Linked DNA regions of Homo sapiens: all the other regions are linked to region 1. Evidence: fine-mapped expression QTL. A gene starts in region 1. Each other region holds a variant in brackets. All regions are shown on one strand. Distances are between the middles of the regions.

Region 1 (5,000 bases):
ATAACTATTTGCACCACTCATTTATGACCTCACCAGTAACCACATTAAAAAAAAAAAAAACACTTAATTTACTAACAATGATGGAGATTCTCTACTAACATGCCATTACGTTTTATGCATTACTTAACTGTTGATTTAGTCTTAAATCACTTTGCTAAAACTTAGAAAATTAGCAAAGTAATTGCTAGTTTCACATATATATTAGCTATATATGTGAGATGTTAACCTCAACTTTAAGGTTGTGTATTTATTACCAGAATATACTTATCTAAAAGCCTAATATAACATCTTGTGTGCATATGTTAGGAAGACAGTTGTCAAAAAGGTCCACTTTTAGGCCTGACACAGTGGCTAACTCCTATAGTCCCAGCACATTGGGAGGCTGAGGTGGAAGGATCACTTAAGCCCAGGACTTCAAGACCAGGCTGGGCAACACAGGGAGACACTGTCTTTACAAAATAAAAAAATTAGGCATGGTGGCATGTGGGAGCCCAGGAGGTAGAGGCTGCAGTGAGCTGTGATCACAGCACTGCACTCCAGCCTGGGCAACAGAGCCAGACTCTGCCTCAAAAAAAGAAAAAAAAAGTTCCACTTTTCATAGTTTTTTGGTTCCCCACTCCTATACACAGATACACACAGTTCAGGAGGTATTACCACTTGTTTGGCAAATACACCTCTGTTTTCACTGTATTCTTAGGGATTTTGTGTGTGTGATTGTGTGACATTATCTTTGCAGCTTTGTTTATTTGAGAACTGGATGATTTTTCTAATGCAAGAGTAGGGAAACAAGTCTCTTTGCTTAATTCTGGGGAAAGGAAAACCTCCTCAATAATCCATAACTTTTAAGGGCATCAGTAAAACATGCATTTATTGGCAGCTGTGTTGAACACCCTATTAGGTGATGGGTTTCTTTATCTGTAAAGATAATAGCAGCCCCCATCCCCTAAAGTATTTTAGGATTCAATGAAAAAACGTAGATAAATTGATTAATACAGCACCCACATTGTAATTCAAGATTCAATAAATATAGGTTATCATTTCTGTACAGCTTTCCCCTTTCATGTCAATTCCTATTTGATACAAAAATTTCCCCAGCTGTGTTACTTTGCATTTTACTTAATCCTGAAATAAACTAAGGAACAGGTTACACTAGAGGGGGTACCTAAATCAACCTGAGGACAAGGACGGCCAAGGAGAAATTACAGGTGTTTGATATCCACCCCACTCCCCCAACCTTTAATGGCTTTTTTAAGTTTCTATAGGGTAGCAACTATTTTATGCATCTCAATATAGGATGGATGAAGGATATGAAAAACAGATGAATCTTATCTAGCACAATGCCTATTCCCACTATGGTCATTCTCAATAATCAGATTATTGGTCATAGATGGGAATTTAGAGATCATGCAGTACAAACTTATTTGTGTAAGTAAAAAAAAACGAAGCTCAGGGTCGATAAGTGACTTGCCCAACAGTGAAAGAGTCTTATCTGGAATCCAGGTATCTAGACCCACTCAGTCCATGAGTTCTCCCACGGGTTTACACGAACGCGCCACATTAATGAAGGCAAGGGACTGACAAACTACGAAGGCGTGTTTTCATCTACTCTGTCCCATCCTGTGTGTCAACCTTATTTATGTTATTTCAAGTTAGACATCACCTAAATACAGCCCACAGTTTACGAAATCTGTCAAAAGCATCGTAGAAACAGAAAGCGAAGGAGGACTATCGTATGAGTACCGCTGGAGGAGACGTAGAGTTGAGGGTACCAAGCGAAGGGAATTGCCTGTGGACAGAGGAGACAAGTTCATACTCCGAAAAAATAGGAAAACGAGAAAGGCTACTGGGCCACATAATATCTTCTCTTCTTGCAGAGGGCCCCCAAAACAGCAATACCTGGGGAGGAGATACCTACGGCATTCTGAGATTCGGGAAAGCACCACTGCCGCTGAATAAAACGAACCCAGCAACTTCCGAAAACAGAAAATCCGCCAAAGGAAACGCCAAGGCATGAAAAGCGCGCGCTGGACGTTGCGTCAAGCCCACCGCGGCCGGGCGGAAACATCCTCCCCGCGACGAAGGATCCGGGTGTGCGCGAGCAAAGGAGCGAGCGGGGAGTTCTAGGCCCAGGACAGCACCTATTTCCTGCTGGTGTAACAGAGCACCTTCTCTCACTACTCTGGCCATACCACCCCCGCGATAGAGGAGCAACACAGCTGTCTCTGTGCGCTCCGGATCAGCGCTTCCTAGATTTCTAGCCGGATCGTTTGGAGAAGGGCTCTGCATCTTATTTCCGGTGGCGGTGAGGTGCAGTTGCCATGGTGATTAGAGAAAGGCCGAGATCTGTCCAGCTGCGGTGAGAGGAACGCTGAATCGCCGAAGAGAATTGGCTGCGCTTCCTTGTTTGTGAGCTAGAATTAGGTAGCAAACAGCTCGCTGTCTCTGTCTCTTCGCTCCCTCTGTCCCTCTCTGTGCAGCTGCTTCTCCTTCCTCTGCTTTGTCTACTTCTCTGTCATAAACATTTGGTCCATGTATGTACCTAAAATGTACATGTAAATGCGGTTTTATTTCCAGAGGAATACAAAAATAGAGAGATGGTGCCCGAGATTACCTGTGACGGTATTTCACTGTGTAGGGACGGTGACTGGACGGCTTTCTGTTTTCACTTGGCCCTGTAGAAGCCTTAGGCGCTTGTTAACAGTTTATTTTTCTTGCTATTGTGTGGCTGGTTATTTATGGAGCCGTTTGCTGCAATGTACTCTCTAGGCCCCTGTCTCAGTCTCGGGCCGGAGTTTTAAGTAAGGGAGGTTTCCAAGCCTGCGGGGGGTGCAATTATATGTTTATTTAAGCTTTAGTTTGGTTTCTCGTCACAGAAAGGAAAAGAATAAAATTCTGGCACATTTCTGCCTTGGGATTTCCATGTGAGGGAGTTGCCTTGTTTGGAAAGAATATTTGAGGACGATCCTAAAATATACTTATATTTTAAAATTGCTTATTGCAAAGTGAAATTCATTCTCCCTTACTTCTTGAAACAGTTTTCTTTCACATTTGTGAGGAGATGCATGCACACATATGTGTTTAGAACTCTGATGCTTAATTATAGTATTACCAATTTGCAGTAACCAGACTGTGACACCACATCCCTGTGGGGTCCTTCTAAATCTGGTGTAATATGAAAGTGTCAGGCAGGCGGCCTGCGTATTATAAATAGGGTACTTCATCCATGATAAGCAATTATTATCTTTCTTTCCCAAGTGTAAATGATCTATATAATTCGAAAAGGTGCAAGTGATTTAGGCCTCCTGAGTAGGAATGCAATGAGTCCTGAAGGGGACCCTACCTGTGTTATCTTATTATTGAACTTGAAATATTCAATTTATTAGGTTGGAGATCTATTTTTAGAAGTCAAAGCTGGGTAGAGTAATATTGGAAGCTGTTAGACCACCAGTAGAATCTAATACCCCATAGTAACCATTGTTCAGTACTATATCCACATTAACAAAGAAGAAACTGTTCGTGAAATTTACGGCTTTTTGCCACTTACTGCTAGCTGGGTGACATTGCTACCCCTCAATTTCCTCATCTGTAAAACGGACAAAAAAATACCTGACCGCTGTAATAGGGATAAGACAAGATGTATGACAGTTCTTTAAGCTCTTATGTACAGAGGTGCTATACAAACCCCAAATATTGTTATTAATAAAGGAACACAGTAAAACTATGATAATGCTATAAATAAGACTTTTAAAATATAGCTATTTGAAATGTGGGGCTGCATTATTGAGATGTTAATGAAATGATCTTGTTGATCCTGCTGTGGAAGATGGGTGTCAACTACCACTCATATCCCGATTCTCATTATTCTGGAGTTTCTCATTATCTGCAGTTTATTTAGCACTTACTACGTGTCAAGCAATATTGTATATGCTTCACATGTATTAACTGATTTGCTCCTCTTAAAAACCTGATGAAGACTGTCATCTGACTTTCGTATTTTGAGAGAATAGATGTGTGCTCTTCCTTTGTTCAGTGATTCTTCTCTTGTGTATATCTTTGTTCTTTTGGCTATTATCACATATTTGAACAATTATATATATACATATGTATATATCTAAAATTAGAAATTAACTGCCAAAGGCTTATTCTTGTTTAATATATAATACGTCCATATACAACTATAGTATTCGTCTTTTACTTCCACATATAAAACTTTTAATATCTTGATCTTTTCATATATGTTATAAATTTTCTTCTATGTATAAAATCTTGATTCTCCTCCCTGTATTTGAAAGACATGGTGACATTTGTGTTTTAGTGACTCACATTGACAAACACATTTTTAAATTATTTTCCAATAGAATGGCGATCAGTCCACGAAGCGATGCAACTTTCTCCAGTCAGAAATCAACACCTTCAGAGAGTCCTCGAACAAAGAAATTTCCACTAACTGAAGAGGAAATATTTTATATGAATTGTAGAGCTGCCTACTTAACTGTCTTCAAAAGCAGCTTGGAAAACATTATTTCTAAAGATCAACTTTACTTAGGTAAATTTTTAAAATTTTTAAATCTTTCACCTTTTTGTTGAAAGTTAATAAATAGGTCCGAAAGACTGAAATTAGAATTACCTTGTTGAATCATCCCAGTTTCTTAGTGAAGCTTGAGCAATGGAACTACAGTAAGCTATTATGTCATATCATATAGTTACATATTCTAGGAACTACAAAATAAAACTTTCAATGTTTATACAAACTAGATGGGTAATTGAAAGCTTCTATCAATTACTACTTGCTTAAGATACTTTTAATTCTCATTTTGGTGCTTTAAGATTTATCATAATAAAATTAAAACGCTTTTGGCCTCTTAAGTCACTAGCCTGAATTTGACCCATACTGAGGAAAGTGTAAAGGATGTGTAAAAATGGGTGGAATGTCTGAAAAAGTGAAGTACTGAGAGATAAGTGAACTTTTAAAAGAGAATTGAGTTGGGGTTTTTTTATTT
Region 2 (8,335 bases), 79 kb after region 1:
ACAAACCATTACAAAGGAAGCAAAATTATATTGAAGTATAATCAAAATATTAAAAAACCAGATTTGTGATATATCAAGATAATGCTTCTTTACTGACATAGGAAGATTTGTGGAGGATTTAATACTGCCTTACTTCAAAGTAGTGGTGAGTATAAATGATGTTTTGAGACGTCTGCAATCTCAGTATTTTGAGATAACTATAATAGGATATGAAAATATAATTTTTATTGATGATAAATTCCTAGGTAGTAGTAGTAATAGTAGCAGTAGTAGTAATAATACTGTGGTTTGCTTCCTACATTTATAATAAAAGGAGGTGCTAAATTTCAGTTAGATGTTAGTGAAAATAAAGATTGTTTTGTTTATTTTGTCATTCATATTCATGGATCCCATTGAATTCTACCCAAGGACCTCTTGAGGTAGGGGAAGGGGATGTAAGCATCCCAAGTTAAGAACCCCACACTAAACAATGATCCTTTTTTAGCATCAGGTGATGCCTGCACCAAAATGGACCTCAAACACATGACCCAGAGGTTAAGGGTCTCATGTTCTCAGAGCAAACTAGTGGGACTTTGCAAACTTCGCCTTATAGTGGAGGAACTCCACTGTCTCCCGCTTGAAGTGAACCACCCTTTTCTGAACTTTCATGAGATCCATCTGCAAACACTGCTGAAGGAACATGTTTCTGGCTATAGCAGTTCACATTTCTTGAAAAGGAAATAAAAGAACACTGAGCAGGAAGGGGAAGGTTTTGAGACTCTTGGGTAGTTGGAGTTAGGTGGAGACACCTTGCTACTTTAACTTTAAACCTTATATCCCTGGGGCAGGGATGACTTGGCAGAGAAACACCTTCAAGTCACTTTTTTTTTTGAGACACTGTCTTGCTCTGTTGCCCTAGGCTGGAGTGCAGTTGCAGGATCTTGGCTCACTGTAACCTCCGCCTCCTGGGTTCAAGTGATTCTTCTGCCTCAGCCTCCTGAGTAGGTGGGACTACAGGCGTGCACCACCATACCCAGCTAATTTTTGTATTTTTAGTAGAAACGAGGTTTCACCATGTTGGCCAGGATGGTCTGGATCTCTTGACCTCATCATCCGCCCGCCTCGGCCTCACAAAGTGCTGGGATTACAGGCGTGAGCCACCACACCCGGCCCAAGTCACTTTTTAACATGCTGTAACCCCCACTTTAAAAAAAAAAAAAACCACTTTTTAATTATGGTGGGGCCGGGCATGGTGGCTTACCGCACTTGAGTGGGTCACTTGAGCCCAGGAGTTCCAAACCAGCTTGGACAACATGGTGAAACCCCTTGTCTACAAAAAATAAAAAAACTTAATCTGGTGTGGTTTCGGGCGCCTGTGGTCTCGGCTACTTGAGACACTGAGGTAGGAGGATCACATTCACCCTGTGAGGTCAAGGCTTCAGTGAGCTGTGATTGCACCACTGCACTCCAGCCTTGGCGATGGCAAGACCCTGTCTCAAAAATAAATAAATAAATAAATATAAAATGAATTATGGTGGGCTTTGAACAATTGTTCTCCCCTTGTTTACACTTTCTGATTTTGAATCAGCACTGAATGCCAGTATGGATAACCTATTGTCCTTTCCATCCAGGAGCATACAATCTTTTGGGGGAGATAAGACAGAAGAAACACATAGACATACAAAGAACAGAATTAGAAAACATGCTGAGCTCAGCGAGAGAGAGAACATTTTGGATTGGGAAAGAAGAGGTGCCTGCACCTAAAACCAATTATGTCTTGAAGAGCGGATAGTGTGCGATAGAAGATGGGGCTACCCTTCAGGAAGGGGACCTGCCGAGAGAAGTGAGAAAGAGAGAATAGGCAGGACTCTTTTTTAGAGCCGGACACTTAGTCACTAAACAATCTTTGTTACATAAAATACTTAAATCAGCTTGCTTGGGACTTTTTCTTTCTTGGCTTCACTAATGCTCTTGGTGAAACATCTTTTTCCTTTTTCTTTTTTAATCAAATCTAATGCTCATGAAATTTTGTAGAAGAAAAAGAAAAACGTTCTCCCTTTCTGAGATAGAGGGTTTGTTTTGTTTTTGTAAACAAGATAACAGGGAAGAGTGCTCTACTGTTTTGGAAAGAGTGACTCATTCAATAAATATTTATTGAGCACCTATTAGGTTCTCGGTACTACGGATACAACAGTGAATTGAACAAAGTTTCTGCTCTACAGAGCTGTGGGGTTCTCGTTGAGCCTGACAGATGATAAACGTGTCAAATGAAGATAAGTTCTCTGAAGAAAAATAAAACCCAGTAAAGGGGACAGCATTAGAGGATGGGCTGCTCTTTTTAGTGCAGCAATTGGGATGTCTGATAAACCTCATGAGAGCAGAGACCTGAATGAAGTGAAGGAGTGAGCCATGCAGATATCCGTGAAAAGACTTCCAGACAGAGGAAGAGTTAGATGGAAAGGATAAACACATATAATCATTTAATGTTATAAAATTATGCCTCAGGTAAATAAATGTAGCATACATTTTATCGTACAAAGGGTCCCAATATACTATGACATTTTGCATATAGATTATAAGTATTATTCTATTATAAATTTATCTTGGGATAATAAGATGTGTAATCAACATTGATCAAATATTTAACAATAATTTTTTTCTCTCTTGGACTCTAGGGTAGGGAAAACTTTTCATCTACCCTCCTAGGTTATATACTGGGGGCTTGCAAATTAAATGTAAAAGACAAATGAGCAACAAAAAGACATTTGTGGGAGTTTACAGAAAAATGTGACAGGAGGCAGTTAGACTTGGGGGCCTATACATCATCTCAGTAGGGGAAGGCGGAAGAGGAGAAGAGCATTTGCTGGAAACCACGACTTTAGGAGAGATAAATCAGCCCTTAAGAGACTAGATAGGAGATGTGGTAGTTTTATGCCAGTGTCTATTTAGTTATGGTAATGAGTCGATCTTCCCTGGTTGTGAAACTCCAGAGTTCCTTTGGGGCACACTGCTTTTAAGACAGATGAAGGAGTTTAGTAAAAAGCCTATTTTTAAATGACTGGCTCAAAATAATTTTTATGTCACAGTGGTGTAGTCTGGACCCCTTTAGACTTTAGAAGAGCTTTCAGCAGATTGATTTGAGTGAGCTACACTTCTAAGAAAGTGAAGCAGGAAAGTTTGAACTGATCCCTTTATTCTCCTCCAAGTTCCCTTGAGGCCCACACAGACATAGCCAGTTATTCTGCTGACTTTGAAGCTGTGCTCACAGTTGGGATCCACCTTTGAAAAATGGCTCCTGAGTGTGTTAAGTAAGTAATGGCTAGCCGAGGGCTTCAGTTGGGAGGACTGCGGAGAAGACTTTTCTCCCCTGGGGTCCTCAAAGGGGAAAGAAATCACAAGGGGGCAGCATAGGGAGTTGTTTGGAAAGGGTGAGAAGGCTGTGCTTAGTGTTGGGATACGCGGATGGATGTAAGCTGGGTTTTGTTTTGTTTAGTTTTTTAAACTTCAGCTGTTGGAAGTCCTCCTTCCCATAGCTTCTCCAAATCACCACTGAGCTGATTCCCCAAGGCATAAAGACAGCCCTGAATTAACACAGTGGGGAATGCTAATTAAGTCATGCCAATAAAGATTTAATCATGAATCAGAAACACTTGGAAAATTATGTTTTCATATTGGAAAGATGTTCTTTTTTTCTCTATGAGTACCCCAAAGTGTTTTTGAAGGATGAAATGCGATAGGTGGTAGGACAGAAATATTTGGTTGACTTGTCCAGTATGCTAATGGTGTTGGAACAGGGACTCCAGTCTTCTGATATTTCATCTGGTTGGTCTTTTCCATAAATAAATATATCCCAGAGCAAGTAGTTCTGGGGATTGTTATAATATGCTGGTTAATAGCATGGAGAAACTGGCTTGGGCAATGTTAAGTAGGAGTTTCAGAGCTTTTAATATATGAGTACTGAGAGTTTGTAAAAGGACCCCAAACAGAAGAATTTTGGGAAATACCAATCTATACCATGCTGGGTTGATAGGACCATCTATATTATACAAGAATCTTC[T/G]CAGATTTAAGTTTCTTCTTTTTAAACTGCCATTAAGGGCATGCAGGGAAGGTGAAATTTTGTTTTAATATCCATGTATACCATATGGCTTATTTTGGCAACTAATATATGAATTTGTTCTTGGCTGCTTTGAGTGTGATTGATTCAGCCCAATAAGTATTTTCTAACCAGGTCACCACATGTAGAGTTATGAGGTAAGTGACAAAAGTCCTTCTGACCAAATATTAGTCCTGTATGTTGTACTCCAATGTGCTCACAAGTGAATTGAAATGTTGCTCAAGAGTGAATTGAAATGGCTACTACATTGTGTGAGTCCGGAGGGCTTAATCTGCATGGTGTCATAGCCATTTGGGGGCTAAACCGACAAGTGTGAGGATTGTAAACTGGCAGGGAGCTCAAAATGAGCTGATTGGTGAAACTTCATGGTGATCTCGTAGGTTGCAGCAGAGAACAATACAGGCCCAGTCCTCACATGCTTGGGACTTAAGGTGAAGGTTTGTGTTGGAGGCTAGGTGGGTTACGGACAAGCAGAGAACTGCCACAAGGTGCTGTCAGCACTGGGATGGAGGTGAGCAAAGGAGGCTAGGAAAGCATAAAGGAGGCGTGCCTGGTTCCAGCAGAGGGAGTAGGGAAGTGACAACTAAAACCAGACCTGAAGGTGAAGAGCAGAGAGGAATGTTCCAGGCAGAACCATAGGTGAGAGAATTTGGCATGTTTAAGAGAAAGCTCCCCTCACTGCCCCCCAACTCCGTATTTTTGTTTCATACTCTGCAAGGAGCAACTGCACTAAAAATGTACCTCATGTTTTCTATTTTACAAGTTACTGCCACATGCATGGCCTTATTTCCTGTCTACAACAAACCTTTCAGGTGTCCCAGGTCACAAAGTCAGGAAAAGAGCCTGGGAACTGCCCCCACTCTTCCTAGAATGTAAGGGGTGTTGGGCCATGTTCCAAATACCAGGTTCCCACTGAGAGTGGCTGAGGATAATGCTAATCTGGGCAGTTTTAAGCAGGAAATGAGTATGTGGAGTAGGGAAGTGCGGAGATCTTGCTATGTAAGTCAGAGCTATTTTTCTCACTACTGGGTTGAATTAAAACCAGTTTCTGGAATCACAATGTAAAACAAGAGGCAAAATCCACCTCGAGGCACATTGGTTTTTATTCCTTAAATGTTCCACATAAAAAATGAAAACTGAGTCAGTAGAACAGAATCGTAAGACCAGATGGCTTCCCAGGATCAATGGGGGCAAGCCATTAACTATCATCTAGTTAATAGAGGAAATTGCATTTTACAGTGGGATGGGTTCTAGAGTTCGAGTGGAAGATGAAACTTCAGTCAAAATCATCCTTAAAGTCCCATAGGAAAGTACCACATTGGAGAACAACATGTAACACAACAGGTATGTCTTTAAATAGCAGAAGTGCACTCAAGATACCCATACTTTGAGAAGCACGTGGGGACTAAGACTGAGCAGGGGCCTGTGGTCACTGGGTGAAATGGTGGCAGAATTGCCCATGCTGTTTAAATTTCACTCTTGTCTTCTTTGTCTCCCTGGAAGTTCTATATACAACAGTTACATTTGTGCAAGATAAATACTTGTATGATGTGACTACACTGCACATTCTTGATGCTACTCAGAGTGCACATATGAGAATCATCTCAATCATGATTCATCACCTGCAACTTGGAGCACTTATGCCCTGTGCCTTTCTACCGGGCTTATATTTGAAATCTCAGATTTCCCTGTCAAGGCTTGATCTTACCGCTGCAGATCTGTTTGGACCACTCTGAAAGAGTATACTTTGAGGTGCCTTCCAAAGTGAATTTGATGTACACCACGTAGCCTATAAGGAATTTTTACGATTTTATAGGTTCAATCAGCTGTTGTAACAGACACTCAAAACAACAGTGGATTAAACAAGATGTTTTTCTGTCTTGTGGAATATTGTGGGTCAGCAGGCCAAGACTAGCATGATGGATCCATGATGTTGGGACCCAGCCTCTTTAATCCTGTTGCTCTGCCATCTTGAAGGTGTTGCCCTTGCCCATCTGGTTGCAGATGGCTTCTACTACCACATCCATGTTTCATCTAGTGGGCACAGGGGAGAGATGGGGCAGAGTGTCTTCCCCCTTTAAAATCAGGAAATTGTGTACCTGACTATTGCTCACAATCCACTGGGAAGATCTAACATGCAGGCCACATTTACTTGCAAGAAGGGCTGAAAATGTAGACTCTATATTGAGAGGCATATGGCCCCCTGAAAATGAGTGGTTCTGTTACCTTAAAGAAGAGAAGGAACACTAGAAATATGTGCCATGGTCCACCTCTTTGGCCATGAAGACAGCCATGCCCATTGTTCTTCCTGCCCATTGAAACACAGCACTCCTTTCCAGTGGAGGCACCCCAGATTCCTTCCAGTTACCCAGTCAGTACTCAGTGTTCATAGTTCTCTCCATCAAGCCCATGTGTGGCTCCTTGTGTAAAGTTAAAGACAAATTATCAGGCCCCCTGTCCCCACTACATAACTATGTATAACTATATATATAGGGAGGGAGTTACATAACTCTGTGTGTGTGTGTGTGTGTGTGTGTGTGTGTGTGTGTGTGTGTAAAGAGAGGGGATATAGTTGTATATTTACATATGTAGACCAGTCACTAGCCATAGGAGTGTTCACATTGTCGCATTGTCCTGGCTGGGAATGCACACTCCTGTCCTGGCAGTGGAGTAGGTCCACAGGGAACCCTGGTTCCACCCTCAGGGAGGAACTCTATCCACCTGCTCATGTAAATATATTTATTGAGTAAGAGTGGACATTGGAGAAGGCCCTAAAAGTCCTTTTGGGGCTGTACAGCTTATGTAACCTGCTTCCTGCTGATGAAAGTTGGAGGAAAAGAGGCAGGGGTGACTTTTGCAGGCCAGGCTCCTGGCTCTTTCACTGTACAGTACCTTCACAAATTTAGTAGTCTTCTGGCCTATCCTGATCAGTTCCATGTGCTGGTAATCACAGTGAAAGTTCTCACCTAGATAGTTTTGAAACCTAAAAACTTTGACTTGTATTTATTGGATGCTTTGTGCCTCCCTTGATTTCTCTATTACTGATGGCTACCTTGAGACAGGTGGAAAAGATAGGCTAGTACGAAGGCAGTATCCTTAATCTGATTTTGCTGGTGGGCTAGTTCCCATTGTCTGACAGAGAATCCTGGGGAATATTTTATTTATTATTATTTATTATTTTTATTTTTTTGAGACAGGGTCTCACTCTGCCATCCAGGCTGAGTGCAGTGGTGTGATCATGGCTCACTGGAGCCTCGAATTCTCAGGCTCAAGTGATCCTCCCACCTGAGCCTCAGCCTGGGACTACAGGCATGCACCACTACACCTGGCTAATTTTTTGTATTTTTGTAAAGATGAGGTTTTGCCATGTTGCCCAAGCTGGTCTCCAGCTTCTGAGCTCAAGCAATCCACCCACCTTGGCTTCTCAAAGTGTCAGAATTACAGGTGTGAGCCACCGCACCTAGCCCTGGGAAAGATTTTAGACACAGCCTTCTCTGCTAAGCCTGCTGCTTACTGTATAGCTGATTTAACTTGGTTTCACAAATAGTTGTCATCTCAACTCTGTGATGGCACAAATTCCTGGACTTGGACGGTATCATTTGCAGGCCACAGTAAAAACAAAAAACAAAACTTCCCTTAGCAGAACCCAACCTGCCTTTATTTCTCTCTGCAGAATGGCCAGCCCTTGCCTGAGCTCCCGTCTTTATTGTAGCAAGAGGTAGTTGACAAGCACTCATGTTCTGAATTCTGCCAACCATTTGTCTCAAGCTACAAATTTGGTTGGCCAGTGGTCTGCCTTCCATGCTATCAGAGGCAACAAATTTTTCCATGCCATAAAAAGCATGCTGATGCCAATGTTTTAGATTCTGTTTTGGTACAGAATACCAACTTTTTTGTTAAAATGTAGGTTTGGCTGCTGTTAGCAGAGTTTCCAAATAAAGTACTTAAAAGTTGATAGTAATGGAACCCTTCCTTTCATATCCTGGGTGTGGGCAGTCCAGGGCTGATGTGTGGCTCCATTATACACAGGGACCCATGCCCCTTTTCTTCTGTTGTGCAGCCTTCCCTGGAGTGTTGCTCTTATCTAGGTCCGGGATGGCTGCCCACCACCTTACCTTCATGCCAGCTAACATGCCAACAGGGGAGAAAGATGGAGGAAGGCACACCTTTCTCAGAGATTGAACATATCTGTTGCACTCATGTCGCATTAATCAAAACTTAGCTAAGCCTACCTCTAGCAGC
Region 3 (8,335 bases), 160 kb before region 1:
TTCTTTTCTTCATTTTATGAGAATCATTCCGGTGATATGTAGTAGCTACTATTATTGGGCACATGTGGTATCTCATTTAGATTTAAATCCATGTTTCCAGAGGCAGAGTGCTGTCTTGACAATATCTGCCGTCTCCTTTCTCATTAAAACCAAACCCCAAACCTACTATCAAACAAAACGGTGATACAAAAATCACATCCTACATATTTTGTGTCCTGCCCCTCTCCTCAGCATTCATTTTTAGTTTGGCAATCTTTTATAACTTTGGTGAACAAAAGCAAAAACTCAAGAAAGAAGAAAAGACTTTATTTTGTGTTTTACCCTGTTTCACTGGCATAGACTTTGATCCCTTTCTATAAATAAAAATCTATTTCAAAATCAGACTTTAAATCTTGATGTATTTACTGTAAATTTTACAAGTTGGAACCTCCTACTATCTTGATTTATATGATTTTAAAATGGAGTTCTTACCATTTCCCTTGGGAAGAATTTTTGGTTTGAATAGTTCTTACTGGCAGGTTGCTTCCTTTATGTTTAGCCCAAATTTTCATTTTCAAAGACCATTTTAGATAAGCACCATGATAGCTCTAAGCCAATGGATCTGTGTGCCACATAATAGAGTGTGACAATCCACTCAGTTGTGAAAGACACTGAAGATAAAGCAATAAAGCAGCATTTGTGTTATCACATTGGCTTTACAAATCTACTTAAGCACTGACCCAACAGTGTTATTCATTATTGGGAATTATGGATGTTTATAATTGTCCAAAAATACATTGGGCTAAGTTATACCATATATTATAGATTTAAATTTAAATTCAAGATCCCGGGCTGAGAGAGATGCAGATTTGTAACACTCCTTGGAGGTTTGGGGGTCCGTGAACCAATGAATACATTATATTGTCACATTAAAGAACTCTTTTTATCCATAAAGATGTAACTTTTTTTTATGATCCATATAAACAAAATTATTCTTATATGTATGATTATATACATATATATGGTTGAAACATCTGTATGTATGTATATATATGAGAATAATTCCAGCTGGCATCTGAAATTGACAGTAAAAATAACAATGATTATATTCTTCTGAACTGTGTATAAATTACTGGTGTAAGCTCCTTAAGGGCAGGCTATTTAGTCAATAAATATTTGTTGAATGAATGAGTATGTTCACAAGTAATTATAAATTTAACTTGATTTGCATCACTTAAACAATAGAAATCAAAATTACTCTATTCACAGTAGAAAACAATTCATTTTTAGGCATGGTGTGGTGGCTCACGCCCGTAATCCCAGGACTTTAGGAGGCTGAGATGGGTGAATCACTTGAGCTCAGGTGTTTTGAGACAAGCCTGGCCAATAGAGAAATCCCATCTTTAATAAAAATAAAAAAATAAACTGGGTGTGGTGGTGGGCACCTGTAATCCCAGCTACTTGGGAGGCTGAGGCAGGATAATTGCTTGAACCTGGGAGGTGGAGGTTGCAGTGAGCTGAGATCATACCACTACACTCTAGCCAGGGCGACAGAGCCAGAATCTGTCTCAAAAAAGGAACGAAGGAAAGGAAAGAAGGAAGGAAGGAAGGAAAGGAAGGAAGGAAGGAAGGAAAGGAAGGAAGGAAGGAAGGAAGGAAGGAAGGAAGGAAGGAAGGAAGGAAGGAAGGGCATATTTCTTAGCTCTTTCCACAGAAAGGACTAAAACCAAAAAGCAACCCAATAGCAATGAGCATCCTCAGCACATAGAATGTGGTCTTGAAATACCATTTCCTGCTAAAAGGAACCAGGGTTCTTGAAGAAATAGCTAATTACAGGTTTGGAAAATAAACATACAAAAATAAACGTGGAGCATCTTGTTATACCAGATAGCAAGGAAACTATGATCCAAGTAAAGACTGCTATGTCATGTCAGAAGGACTCAGGAGCCAACTTAAAGAGACTCCCACTAGCCATGGGACACACTGAGCACCAGTAAGCACAGTAACGACACTGGATCGAAACACATCGAACGTGAATTGTCTGTCACATTCTCCATGAGTTCATGATACTTTTTAAAAAAATTGTCACCAATGGGGAAGCTAATAAACCAGCTCATTATTTTGAAACCTCTTCCCCTCCCCTTCCCTCTCCCTTTCTTTCACACACACACACACACACACACACACACACACACACACACACACGATCACCCTTGTTTCAAACCACAGAACAGACTTATAGATGAAAGGAATCTCTTTTGGAGCTTCGGAAACCAACCTTATATTTGGAGGAACCAAATTGGAATCAACTTAAAACTGAATTGGTTTTTTTCTTGAGACGAAGTCTCGCTCTGTCTCTGAGGCTGGAGTGCAGTGGTGGGGTGATCTTGGCTCGCTGACATCTCTGCTTCCCAGGTTCAAGCGATTCTCATACCTCAGCCTCCCAAGTAGCTGGGATTATAGGTGCACGCCACCACACCCGGCTATTTTTTTTTATTTTTAATAGAGATGGGGTTTCACCATGTTGGCCAGGCTGATCTCTAACTCCTGGCCTCAAGTGATCCGCCTACCTCGGCCTCCCAAAGGGCTGAGATTCCAGGCGTCAGCTACTGTGCCCGGCCTACTTTTAATTTCCTTTCTTCCTCTCTCCCTCCTTCATTCCCTCCCTCCCTTCTTTCTTTTTTCCTTTCTTCCTTCCAGTAATTCTATAAAATAAACCCTGAATGTATATCAATATTTAACTTCTAGGCTGGGCGCGGTGGCTCAAGCCTGTAATCCCAGCACTTTAGGAGGCCAAGGCGGGCAGATGGCTTGAGGTCAGGAGTTTGAGACCAGCCTGGCCAACGTGGTGAAACCCCATTTTCTACTGAAAATACAAAAAAATTAGCCGGGGGTAGTGGTGTGTGCCTGTAGTCCCAGCTACTCGGGAGGCTGAGGCGGGAGAATCGCTTTGAACCTGGGAGGCAGAGGCTGCAGTGAGCTGAGATATTCCACTGCACTCCAGCCTGGGTGACAGAGCAAGATTCTGTCTCAAAAAAAAGAAAAAAAGAAAAACAAAGAAATATTTAACCTTATCTTTCATGTTTAACTCATTTTTCCCATGCCAAGAATCATGGTCTCTAAACACCAGCCATGATGGAATTTGAATAGCATATATATCTTCATTTTCTTTATCCCACTTTACACATATAGTAGTCTCAGAATAACAATTCCAACCCTAATACCCACAATACGATTACTAACAATTATTTAATTATTTTAACAGATTTTTTTTTCCCTTAAGGTATATCAAACTAGGAATTAACCATCAAATTACTGTGTTTTTTCCTTTTCGTTTCTTTGAGACAGGATCTTACTGTGTCGTCTAGGCTGGAGTGCAGTTGCACAATCATGGCTCACCTCATCCTCAACCTCCTGGGCTTCATGTGATCCTCCCACCTCAGCCTCCCAAGTAGCTGGGACCACAGGTGTGTGCCACCACACCCAGATAATTTTTTAAATTTTTTTGTAGAGATGGGATCTCCCTATGTTGTCCAGGCTGGTCTTGAACTGCTGGGCTCAAGTGATCCTCGTGCCTGTGCCTCCCAAAGTGCTGGGATAGCAGGCATGAGCCACTGCACCTAGGCCCTACTGTGTTTTTTCTGTTTATTCTTCTTCTTTTTTTTTAATGGAGTCTCGTTATGTTGCCCAGGCTGGCCTCAAACTCCTGGGCTGAAGTGATCCTTCTGCCTCACAGCCTCCCAAGTAACTGGGATTACAGCTGGGCCATTATGCTGGCTAAATTATATGTTTTAAAGTCACTTGGAACAGTCTCTTTGTGTAGCAGAGCCATCAGCTGGATATATAGTTAAGTTATTTTATTTCACTTTATTTTTGAATTTTAGGAATTTATTTTTTCCATTTTAATTTTGCTTTATCATTAATTTAATCAGCAAATTTCATATTCTGACTTCCTTTAAATAGCCCTAAAAATGAATAAAAGTTAGCTAAGATCTATGTTCAGATACTTATCTGCTGTATCTCTTAGGGAAATTGTGCAGTGTCTCACACCAGCATTTCCAAAAGTGTGTTTCATGGACCATTCTTCAGGGCGAGAAGTGGGAGGTGGGG[T/C]GGGTGTGAAGATAGGAGTCTATAGTCACATGAGTCTAAAAATCCTATATTCTCTTGGAGAATCATGATGTACATAACATATAAAAGGCTTTGAAAGCCAGGTGCAGTGGCATGTGCTTATACTCCTAGCTTCTTGGGAGGCTGAGGCAGGAGGATTACCTTAAGCCAGGATTTTGAGGGTAGCCTGGCAACATAGTGAGACCCTGCCTTAAAAAACAGGCACCAAGAAGATCTGAAGTAAGGAAGCTTTCTTCCTTAGATTTGTGTAACCTAGTGTTTTAAAATTTATTTGTCTGGGCCGGGTGTGATGGCTCACGCCTGTAATCCCAGCACTTTGGGAGGCCAAGGCAAGCGGATCACCTGAGGTCAGGAGTTCGAGACCAGCCTGGCCAACATGGTGAAACCTCATCTCTACTAAAAATAGAAAAATTAGCTAGGTATGGTGGTGGGCGCCTGTAATCCCAGCTACTGAGGAGGCTAAGGCAAGAGTATTGCTTGAACCCAGGAGGCGGAGGTTGCAGTAAGCTGAGATTGCGCCACTACACTGCAGCCTGGATGATAGAGTGAAACTCTGTCTCAAAAAATAAATAAATAAAATTTATTTGTCTGTATGAAGAGACTGTCCTCACACCTTTTTTTCTCTTCTTTTTTTTTTCTGTTTTAATAAAGTTAAAGAGTAAAATAAAAATTCACAAGCTGCTTCCTTGTCCATCTGCCTACCTCCATCCCCTAATTGCAGTCTTTGACACTGGTTCGTTATCCGTCACCCCATTCACACAGACACTGGATGTCCAACTGAGAAAACAGAACTGCAGTAAGTACACGGAGACATGATGTGAATTGCATCCACATTCAAGATTAAACTGAGTGACTCTGCATTTTCTGGGTTCTAGGTGGTTGCCCTTCATTAGGCAAATAGAAAAAAATTCCCTGGACCAGACGCTTCAAAGCTGAAGCCCCAAGACCACTGAAGAATGCCTTGAAGATACTATTTGCATCAAAATCACCCATATTCATGCCCTCCTTGTCCAGGTCCTGTCCACTGTCCTAGCGAGTCTTTTTCTTGGGATCAGAGAAGATGGTAAAGGCCTCTCCAATTTCCTTGAACTTCCCCTCCTCCTTCTGAACCTCAGCACTGCCTCCACTGTGCCAATCTGGATGGTGCATCAAGGCCCATTTGTGATAAGCTTTCTTGGTCTCGTCCTCAGAGGCATTATTGTCCACTCCCAGAATCTTGTAGTAATCTTTCTTCTTACTCTTCTTCAGTTTCAGCTGTGCATTTTTTAGGAGCTGTTTGTGTTCTTTTGTTTTCTCTGTCTGATACACTTTTTCATAATTGTGCACTGCTTCTTCATACTGTTTGGTGTTCATGTAACACTGAGCTCTTCTCAAGCAGGCTTTTAAATAGGTGTCATTGAGCTTCACTGTATTTGTGCAGTCTTGTATTGCATTATCTAGTTTCCTAAGCTTAGAATTAACCATAACCCAATTATAGTAGAGTTTAGCTTAGTTTTTATATTGTTGGGGTTTATCCCCAGGGGTCATGTGTACAGTTCGTATGCTAGCTTGTAATTTCCTTCCTTAAATGCTTTATTTCTGTCTTCTTTCTTTGCTTTGAGTGCTTTGGGATTTCTGCAAGCAACGCAGGCCCTCTCATGGAGCCATCCTAAGAGCCTATACAAAAACTGAAATGACTTGTCAATACAATCTTCATAATAAAGGCAAAGACCTTATACATACAGAGGATCTGCATTGGTGGACTCCATTTGTAAAATGTCACTGGCCACAGATTGTGCTTCTGGATAATGACCCAGCATTACTAAATATTCTGCTTTGAGGATTTTGAAGCAATGGCAGGCAGGGGCAAGTGCTCGGGCACAGTCCATGCAGAGAACAACCTTCCTAATATCATGCTTCTCAAAATCTGTTTTTGCTAACTTCTCATATTCCATTATTGAATTGGCATTCTTGAACTCCTGTTATTCCTGAGCATTTTTATGATCCAGTTCTAGGGCTCTCTGGAAACTAACATGTGGCCATGGCATTCTCTAGAGAGAGGGGGCACTTGCCCCCTCCTAGATGTCCCTGAACAAAACTGTCATCCAATCTCAATGACTGGTGTGCATCTCCAAGAGCTTCCTGGAACCTTCCAAGCATAATCGATGTGGCTGCTTGATTACTGTAGTAGCTAGCATTTTTAGGACATATGCCTATGGCTTTTGTATAATAATTATAAGCTTCATTGTAGTATTTCTTGGCATAATATACATTTCCTTGTTCCTTGAAAGACTCTCCTTCCCATGGTGTACAGTTAGACTTCTAGCTTCCCTAGAAGTGAAGTTCTGATGGGCAGCCACCAAGTCTAACTTGTCTGGTTTCTATTAGCACATGGCTCTGCATCTGGCATAGACAGAGCAGATGCTCAGAAAACATTTGACGAATAAATGATATTGAGTAAAGGAAGTGTTACTTACTATGGTAGCCTTTAGAGAGAGATTTTGTTGGCCTGGCGTGATAGCTCATGCCTATAATCCTAGCACTTTGGGAGGCTGAGGTGGGCAGATCACCTGAGGTCAGGAGTTTGAGACCAACCTGGCCAACATGGTGAAACCCCATCTCTACTAAAAAGACAAAAATTAGCCAAGTGTGGTGGCACATGACTGTAATCCCAGCTACTCGGGAGGCTGAGGCAGGAGAATTGCTTGAACATGGGAGATGGAGGTTGCAGTAAGTCGAGATCGTGCCCCTGCGCTCCAGCCTAGGCAACAGAATGAGATTCTGTCTCAAAAAAAAAAAAAAAAAAAGAAAGAGAGAGAGAACATTTGGGCATCAGAGACACCAGAACAGCAGTCTGCAACTAGGGAGCCTAGAACCTTCCTGTTTTTTGTGTGTGACAATAGTTATTATCTCACTGAATGAGAGTTCTGTAGAACATGCTTTGGGGAAATGTCACTCTCAAGTTTTCTTATATGTCAGAAGGGGATAATAACACCTGTTCTACCATTGTCTCAGAGTTACTGTGAAGATCAAGTGAGCTGGATATGAAAGACTTTGGCTAATGCCTATACTGAAACATGACAATGTAAGTTTAACTCTAACATTCTGCTACTCAGGTGAACTTATGCCCTACATGGGGCAAGAGTATAATGAGACTTAGAGGTTACAGAATAATGGAAAATGAGTCATTTTGACCCATAAAAGGGTCAATTAAGGAACAGGTACTGATAAGAAAATAGATTCTATTTAAAAGAATAGTTATGATCAGGTGAATGGCTTTCAGTTAAAATCAGAGAAGATCTGAAACTTATATAGAAAAGGGCTTGTTTTCTTACTGAGTGGAAGTGATCTAGGAAAGGGACTAGAAACTATTATAAAAGTATGATTTGTGTGAGGAAGTTTGCCTAGCTGATTAAATATTGACAGTACCTTCAATAAAGTATATAATAGTTTGTTAAGGTTGCTGTAACAAAATAGCACAGGCTGCGTGGCTTAAACAACAGAAATTTATTTTCTCAGAGTTCTGGAGGCTTGAAGTCAGAGATCAAAGTGTCTGCAGGGTTGATTTCTTTTGAAGCCTCTCTCCTTGTCTTGCAGATGGCCCTATTCTCCTGTCTTCACATGGTCTTTCTTCTGTGCGCATGCATATCTGTGTTCAAATTTCCATTCTTGCAAGGATCCAGGCATGTTGGGCTAGGGCCCATCCTAATGTCCTCACTTAATATTAATTACCTCTTTAAAATCCCTATTTCCAAATATAGTCACATTCTAAGGCACTGGGGATTAGGACTTCAACATATGAATTTTGAGGGCTACAATTCAGGCCAAAACAAGTTATATGCAATTTGTACCATGAGATTATCTTTACTCTACATACATGAAATGGCCACCAGAGGTTGCTCCTTTTGCAAAAGACATGGCAGAAAGACAAGTAAGTAAGGGGATTTGAACTCTGATTTTTTGGCTGGTGAGAAATAAAATTGTTAGTTGGGCTCTTGCCCATTTCTAGTTTCATCCCAACTTTTCTGTAGTGGATTACAGATGGCCGGAAATTCTTTCCTACCTTCCCACTGAGAGGCAGAATCTATTTCCACTCTCCTTGTATCATGGCTAGGTTGCTGTGTGACTTGTAAGGCTGGGGTGTAAGAGATCTGCAACTTTTGCCTTTGCCGCTTGGAATGCTCTCTCTGGGAAGTGAGCTGCCGTGTAAAAAGTTTGCGAAACTTTCTGAAGAGAGAAGCCCTGTGGA

The links. PIP is the estimated chance that this variant, and not a neighbour inherited with it, causes the effect. A credible set is the group of variants that fine-mapping cannot tell apart.
Region 2: its variant is the best candidate, but not a certain one, in a credible set for the expression of ITGB3BP in whole blood (INTERVAL, PIP 0.66).
Region 3: its variant is the best candidate, but not a certain one, in a credible set for the expression of ITGB3BP in coronary artery (GTEx, PIP 0.64).

What each region holds. Positions count from the first base shown.
Region 1 is chr1:63,521,214-63,526,213 of GRCh38, forward strand. It overlaps ITGB3BP (integrin subunit beta 3 binding protein), which reads right to left and starts at 2,012. Exons shown (of 9, transcript NM_014288.5): 1 at 1,916-2,012. The coding sequence starts at 1,920. It overlaps EFCAB7 (EF-hand calcium binding domain 7), which reads left to right and starts at 2,312. Exons shown (of 14, transcript NM_032437.4): 1 at 2,312-2,421; 2 at 4,359-4,546. The coding sequence starts at 4,360. RefSeq lists enhancers at 1,411-2,034, 2,196-2,275.
Region 2 is chr1:63,598,313-63,606,647 of GRCh38, forward strand. The region is part of intron 1 of PGM1 (phosphoglucomutase 1); the gene reads left to right. Among named protein-coding and RNA genes, the nearest start is that of PGM1, 9.1 kb to the left of the region's middle. The variant T/G (reference allele first, on the strand shown) is at 4,037.
Region 3 is chr1:63,354,793-63,363,127 of GRCh38, forward strand. It overlaps the pseudogene LOC441887. Among named protein-coding and RNA genes, the nearest start is that of ALG6, 8.7 kb to the right of the region's middle. The variant T/C (reference allele first, on the strand shown) is at 4,090.